2 linked regions of the Homo sapiens genome follow. The protein of the gene in region 1 purifies or fractionates together with the protein of each later gene. This does not show direct contact. Each region holds a gene or a part of one and is shown on either strand. Other genes may lie near its edges. The genes, in order: MYO9A and UNC5B.

Region 1 (3,817 bases):
CCTAGCTACTTGGGAGGCTGAGGTGGGAGGATCACTTGAACCTGGGAGGTCGAGGCTGCAGTGATCTGTAATCATGCCATTGTACTCCAGGCTGGGCAACAGAGTGAGACCCTGCCTCAAAAAAAAAAAAAAAATTGGGGGTAATATTTGCCTCATAAGACTATCATTGGAGTTAAAAAAATTTTTATGTAAAGCACCAAGCATATAGTAGGTACTCAGTAAGTCTTCCTTTTCCCTCTTGAATACGTCTATTTCCTGTTTTATTTATTAATTTTTTTTTTTTTTTAAGACAATCTCACTCTGTCACCCAGGCTGGAGTGCAGTGGCGCAATCTCGGCTCACTGCAACCTCTGCCTCCTGGGTTCAAGTGATTCTCGTGCCTCAGCCTCCCGAGTAGCTGGGACTACAGGTGCACGCCACCATGCCCGGCTAATTTTGTATTTTTAGTAGAGACAGGATTTCACCATATTGACCAAGCTGGTCTTGAACTCCTGACCTCAAGCGATCTGCCTGCCTTGGCCTCCCAAAATGCTGGGATTATAGGTGTGAGCCACTGTGCGCAGCCTATTTCTTGTTATGTTTAAATGTGAAATCAATAATTTTTTTTTTTTTTTGAGATGGAGTCTCGCTCTGTTGCCCAGGCTGGAGTGCAGGGGTGCAATCTCGGCTCACTGCAAGCTCTGCCTCCCAGGTTCACGCCATTCTCCTGCCTCAGCCTCCCGAGTAGCTGGGAATACAGGCACCTGCCACCACTCCCGGCTAATTTTTTGTATTTTTAGTAGAGACAGGGCTTCACCATGTTAGTCAGGATGGTCTCGATCTCCTGACCTTGTGATCCGCCCGCTTCGGCCTCCCAAAGTGCTGGGATTACAGGCGTGAGCCACCATGCCCGGCCGAAATCAAGAATTTTAAGAATTTCACTGTGTGGCTTTTAGAATAAATGGCTAATCAAAGTTTGTTGCTAAAAGAAGCAGATATTAGGGCAGTCTGTCTACTAGTTGTCTTTCAAGTGTGATTTTTTTCAGTTAAAATATTTCTTGTGGCATTGGGGCATTTAAAAAATATTTTTGAAAAAATACTGCAAAGAAATGCTTCTCTTGATGTCTTAGCATATAAGATTAATGGATTTTAGAATGTATTTGATTCAGTGTGAGTTATCATAACAAAATGTGTTCTGTTTGTCAATGACAAACATTCCTTAAATAATTGACAGATTTTAGTACTATTGCTGTTTGTAGTGTGTAAGTATTTGTTTGAAATCTGTTTATTTTTATTGATCAGATGATAGTGGGCTGAGTAATCTCTGGAATTTTCTTTTTTTTTTTTTTTTTTTTTTTGAGATGGAGTCTTGCTCTGTCTCCCAGGCTGGAGTGCAGTGGTGCAATTTCGGCTCACTGCAACCTCCGGCTTCCGGGTTCAAGTGATTCTCCTGCCTCAGCCTCCCAAGTAGCTGGGATTACAGGTGCCTGCCACCGTGCCCAGCTAATTTTTGTATTTTTAGTAGAGATGGGGTTTTGCCATGTTGGCCAGGAAGGTCTTCAACTGCTGACCTCAGGTAATCTACCTGCCTCGGCCTCCCAAAGTGCTGGGATTACAGGTGTGAGCCACCACACCCGGCCTGGAATTTCCTTTTTGTTTTTTTCTTGAGACAGCATCTCACTGTATTGCCCAGGCTGGACTCAAGCTCCTGGGCTCAAGCAGTCCTCCCACTTCAACCTCCTGAGTAGCTGGTACTACAGATGTGTGCCACTACGCTGCCTGGCTAGATTTTTTTTTTTTTTTTAATGTAAGGGAGAAAGTTCTTAGGTGACTGTGTGGACATGTTTATAAACGATTTTTAGATTTTTTTTGCCTTATTTATTTATTTATTTTTTTGTGAGACAGAGTCTTGCTCTGTCGCCCAGGCTACAGTGCAGTGGTGCGATCTTGGCTCACTGCAGCCTCCACTTTCGAGGTTCAAGTGATTCTTGATTCTTGTGCCTCAGCGTCCCAAGTAGCTGGGATTACAGGTGTGTGCCACCACACTCAGCTAATTTTTGTATTTTTAATAGAGACAGGGTTTCACCATATTGGCCAGACTGGTCTCAAACTGCTGACCTCAAGCGATCCGCCTGCCTTGGCCTCCCAAAATGCTGTGATTACAGGCGTGAACCACTGCACCCGACTAATATTTTTGTCTTATTTTGCTTTTGCAACTCTGTTTTCTTTTAGTTCTCTTTCTTCCCTCCCCTATTGTTTTATAATTAAGATCTTAAAGAAATAGAAAAGTTGGAAGAGAACACTAATTATGTCTATCAACTAGATTCAAAAGATAGCGTTATGCCATCCATATTTGCATTATTGTTCCCTGTGTGATTGTGTGTGTGTATTTTTTTTTTTTTTTTAGACAGAGCCTTGCTCTGTCACCCAGGCTGGAGTGCAGTGGCATGATCTTGGCTCACTGCATGCTCCACCTCCTGGGTTCACACCATTCTCCTGCCTCAGCCTCCCGAGTAGCTGGGACTACAGGCACCCGCCACCACGCCTGGCTAATTTTTTATATTTTTAGTAGAGGTGGCGTTTCACGGTGTTAGTCAGGATGGTCTCGACCTCCTGACCTCATGATCTGCCTGCTGCCTCGGCCTCCCAGAATGCTGGGATTACAGGCCTGAGCCACCACGCCCGGCTGTGATTGTATATATTTTTGCAGAACCTTTTGAAAGTAAGTTGCGGCTGGGTGCCGTGACTCACATCTGTAACCCCAGCACTTTGGAAAGCCGAGGCAGGTGGATCACCTGAGGTCAGGAGTTTGAGACCAGCCTGGCCAACATGGTGAAACCCTGTCTTTACTAAAAATACAAAAATTAGCTGGGCGTGGTGGTGGGTGCTTATAATCCCAGCTACTCGGGAGACTGAGGCAGGAGAATCACTTCAACCTGGGAGGTGGAGGTTGTGGTGAGCTGAGATTGCACCATTGCCCTCCAGCCTGGGTGACAAGAGTGAAACTCTGTCTCAAAAAAAAAAAAAAAAATGTATGTGTCATGACAAGTTTACTGCAAAATACTTCGTATATATTTTCTAAGAAATACATATTTTTCGTATCACCAGTGTGCTATTACCAACACCTAGGAAAAATAATACCCTAATTTAATATTGAATTTATATTTGAATTTTCCCAACTGTCCTGAAAAATGTTTTTTTCAAAAGAGAACTCACTTTTAGTTTTTGCATTTCATTTGATTATCTCTTTTTAGTCTCTCAATGTAGGAAGTTCCTTCCCACATTTCTCTTCCCTGTGACATTGAAATGTCTTTGAAGAGACCAATCATCTTGTAGAATGGCCTGTTTTCTAGAGTTTTCTGATTGTTTCTTAGATTGTTTAACTTGTTCTTCTGGTGCTTGTATGTCCTGTAAACTGGAAGTTATATTGTAAAGGATTGAATAGATTCATATTAAAAAGTTTTGGCAAGAACACTCTGTAGGTGATGTTGTATATCATGTTGTGTGTTAATGGGAGGCACATAATGTCAGCTGTCCTCCTATCAGTGATGTAAGTTCGATAGGTTTAAGGTGGTGTTTGCTTATGTCTCCATTTTAAAAGTAAATTTTTTCTCCTGTTATGTACAATAATCTGTGGGACTGATACTTTGGTACCATACAAATATTCCATTTCTCAGTATTCTTTCTCTAATAATTTTAGCATCTTTTTTGATCCTTAGGTATTTAATTAAGGATTGCAAAATGGCGATTTTTCTAATTCTGTAATTCTTTTTCATTTATTAGTTATTCTTCAGTTAATAAGAGCTTTGTAACCTTTATCAACTGGGAGTGAACAACA
Region 2 (3,817 bases), on another chromosome or scaffold:
GAGGAGCAAGCTGCTGGCCAAATACCAGGTGAGGGCTGGGCTGATGGATGGGGAGGGGCACCACTTAAGGGCTGCCCGGGAAGCCCAGCTCCCTCCCGGGCCCTGCCTCCTAGCTCTGTCCTGTGGCCTTACCCCTCCCTGGATCTCTCACTGTCTCTGTCTCCTCCCACCCCAGTCTCTAGGCTTTCAGCCATCCCCAGGCACGTCCCCAAATTCAGGGCAATGGGCAGCCACATGCACACTTCTGCCCTGTCACACCCTCACACGCACAGACGACTATGCCCTTCATCCTCACAGAGGCTCCTCACCCTTCAGGGCATGCCCTCCTGGCAGACTGCCCATCTCATCTCTGACAGCCACAGCCCGCTGCCCACCCAGCAGCGCCTGAGACCACAAGGCCCCCTAGCCCCTGACACACACACACCTGTGCCTTTCCCTCCCCCACCTACCCACCCTCAGCTCCCTTCTGGAACTGAGGGCCTGACACCAACTCAGCTGGCTAGCTTAGGGCACTTGACCCCTCCCTATCTGGGTGGAGAGGCCTGAACTGCCCCCCAAAGCTCCCAACCCTCCCTGAGCCTCCATTTCTATGAGGACAGGGCAGGCTGGCCTTGCCTGCCTGGTCCTGACCCCCTCCTCCTGCAGGAGATCCCCTTCTATCACATTTGGAGTGGCAGCCAGAAGGCCCTCCACTGCACTTTCACCCTGGAGAGGCACAGCTTGGCCTCCACAGAGCTCACCTGCAAGATCTGCGTGCGGCAAGTGGAAGGGGAGGGCCAGATATTCCAGCTGCATACCACTCTGGCAGAGGTGAGGGAAGTCGGGGCCACATATTCCAGCTGCACACCACACTGGCGGAGGTGAGGGAAGGGTGGGGCAGATATTCCAGCTGCACACCACGCTGGCGGAGGTGAGGGAAGGGTGGGGCAGATATTCCAGCTGCACACCACGCTGGCGGAGGTGAGGGAAGGGTGGGGCAGATATTCCAGCTGCACACCACGCTGGCGGAGGTGAGGGAAGGGCGGCCAGATATTCCGGCTGCACACCACTCTGGTGGAGGTGAGGGAAGGGCGGCCAGATATTCCGGCTGCACAGCACTGTGGCATAGGTGAGGGAAGGGCCGCCAGATATTCCAGCTGCACACCACGCTGGTGGAGGTGAGGGCCAGAGGATACCTCTAGGGTTTGGGGCTGGGCTGCAGCACACAGAACCCTGTAGTTCCCTCTCACCTCCCAAGTCTGAGCGGGTATCTGGTCATGTTTTTCTAACAAGTGTCATTTATTGATTGAGTGCCATTCACATGCTTGGCATATACCAAAAAACTTACATGATCTCACAAGCACCGGGAGATGCATGACAGATATCATCCCCACCTGGGAGGTGAGAAAGTAGGTTTTAGGAAGGGCAAGGATTTGCACACAGTACACCAGTGGCAAGACTGGATTCGAACCCAGGTTGATGCAAGGACCAGGCCTGTGGTTCTCAACCGTTAAAAATCCGGATTGAGATTTAAAAACCCAGGCCACCCAGGGTGACAACACTAGATCCTCCTCTTGGGGCATTGTAAAGAGCACTGGATACAGGTCTGGACCCAGGTCTGCCACTAACTTGGCATGTGGCCATGAGCAAGCCACTCCCCTTTTCTAGACTTCACTTTCCACCTGTACAAGAGGGTGCATGTGGATTAGACTGTGGCTGGGCCTCCTTGGGGCTTCCTAACCATGAGGCTGCATCTGCATTTGCCTGGGGCCTTAGGTAAGCATGGTGCACCCCCTGAGGCCTGAAGGGTGGCCATGCAGGCCTTGCCCTTGGGAACCGACCCTTCAAGGGAGAAGCCCCTGCCTGAACAGTGGGAGTCTGTCCAGAGGAGGTGGGAGTGACTCAAGGCTCAATGAGCTCACAGTCCAAGGGGAGGGAGGCTGGAGGGCAGATGCCCAGCACTGTGCCCCTCTCACTCTTGGCCCCCACCCTTGCAGACACCTGCTGGCTCCCTGGACACTCTCTGCTCTGCCCCTGGCAGCACTGTCACCACCCAGCTGGGACCTTATGCCTTCAAGATCCCACTGTCCATCCGCCAGAAGATATGCAACAGCCTAGATGCCCCCAACTCACGGGGCAATGACTGGCGGATGTTAGCACAGAAGCTCTCTATGGACCGGTGAGTATCCCAAACCACAGCCCATCCCCATCTGCCTTCGTCCTCAAGGTCTCACAGGGGCAGGCAGGGCAGGCAGCCTGACAGCCACGACCATCTCCCAGACCAGCTGCCCTTTTGCCACCATTTGTGGCAAATCAGCAACTCAGGATTGGATATGCAAAGTTCAAGAATACTGCTCCCTTGAGGAGCATCATGCTCAGAGCACTGGTCCTTGAGCCAGGCAGACTCTCAGACCCTGCTCTTTTCCCATTGTGTGGGGATAATGCTCCACCTGCCCATCTCACCGAACAGCAGGAGACTCAAAGCCAGGGCATCAGCTTGGTGCCATCATTGTCAGCACCTGGTATCTAGGACAGAGAATGTGCTGCGAGATGCTTGCTGACTGACCAAGATACACTTTGGTGTCAAAACTCCTTTGGAGAACCTCAAATGCTGGATAAGTGCTGGATAAATATAAGGCCAATGATAATAAATATTATACTTATTGAAAGATGTGTAATAAACCTGCATTGAGTCTCAAAAAATAAATAAATAAAATATGCTTTAGATAAGACATTTTACTAGAAATGAATAGGACTTACAAAGATGGCTAAGGCTTTATTCCTCCTATCAGGGGAGTTCATGGGAGCAGGAGGGAACACGGGTGGGAGGAATGACCACATGCTAGACGTGGTCATTCTCTCTTGGGGCCAGTGTCTTTCAATGATAATAATGATGATGATGAACAAGATGGTTACATGCTAGAGACAACGCTAGACCCTTACTTTATATGATCTTGGATCTTGCTGAGCGGTAACTGGCATTGTTCCCATTTTAGAGACAAGGAGACTGAGATTCTGAGCCATAGGTTCTGAATTGCCGAGAGCCACACAGACTGCAGCACAGTAGCTGCAATTCAGACCCAGGACAGTGGGACACCAAAGCTCACAGCCTTCCCACTTCCCCTTGTGCCCCTTCACCTCCAGGCTCCGGGGAGGGGCTAAGTGCTTGGGAACCTCAGTGCCCTCCTTCCCTCTGCCAGGTACCTGAATTACTTTGCCACCAAAGCGAGCCCCACGGGTGTGATCCTGGACCTCTGGGAAGCTCTGCAGCAGGACGATGGGGACCTCAACAGCCTGGCGAGTGCCTTGGAGGAGATGGGCAAGAGTGAGATGCTGGTGGCTGTGGCCACCGACGGGGACTGCTGAGCCTCCTGGGACAGCGGGCTGGCAGGGACTGGCAGGAGGCAGGTGCAGGGAGGCCTGGGGCAGCCTCCTGATGGGGATGTTTGGCCTCTGCTTCCTCCCAGTTCACAGCCAGAGTTGCCTCTCCTCCTCCTCTTCCCCAACCCCCAGACCATGACCAGCCTTAGAAAATCCATGTACTCTGTTGTTAGAGGGCCCAGAGTTCCTTCTCCACCCCCGCTCTCTCTCTCTTGGCCTGAGATCTCTGTGCAGGAACCAAGATGGGGCTGAAGCCTCTGGAGGCAGTTGGTTGGGGGCGGGCAGGCAGGAGGCCCTCCCTCCACCCCCCCACCCTCAGCCCGGCAACTTCTGGGTTCCATGGGTTTTAGTTCCGTTCTCGTTTTCTTCCTCCGTTATTGATTTCTCCTTTCTCCCTAAGCCCCCTTCTGCTTCCACGCCCTTTTCCTCTTTGAAGAGTCAAGTACAATTCAGACAA

Evidence for each region.
Region 2: the proteins of MYO9A (region 1) and UNC5B fractionate together in Homo sapiens (co-fractionation; one large-scale study listed by BioGRID). This does not show direct contact.

What each region holds. Positions count from the first base shown.
Region 1 is NC_000015.10:72,107,956-72,111,772, reverse strand, and holds part of MYO9A (unconventional myosin-IXa), read left to right. Parts: intron 1-3,817. UniProt on the Homo sapiens protein: Myosins are actin-based motor molecules with ATPase activity. Unconventional myosins serve in intracellular movements. Regulates Rho by stimulating it's GTPase activity in neurons.
Region 2 is NC_000010.11:71,295,933-71,299,749, forward strand, and holds part of UNC5B (netrin receptor UNC5B isoform 1 precursor), read left to right. Parts: coding exon 1-28; intron 29-645; coding exon 646-810; intron 811-1,976; coding exon 1,977-2,158; intron 2,159-3,179; coding exon 3,180-3,345; 3' UTR 3,346-3,817. UniProt on the Homo sapiens protein: Receptor for netrin required for axon guidance. Mediates axon repulsion of neuronal growth cones in the developing nervous system upon ligand binding.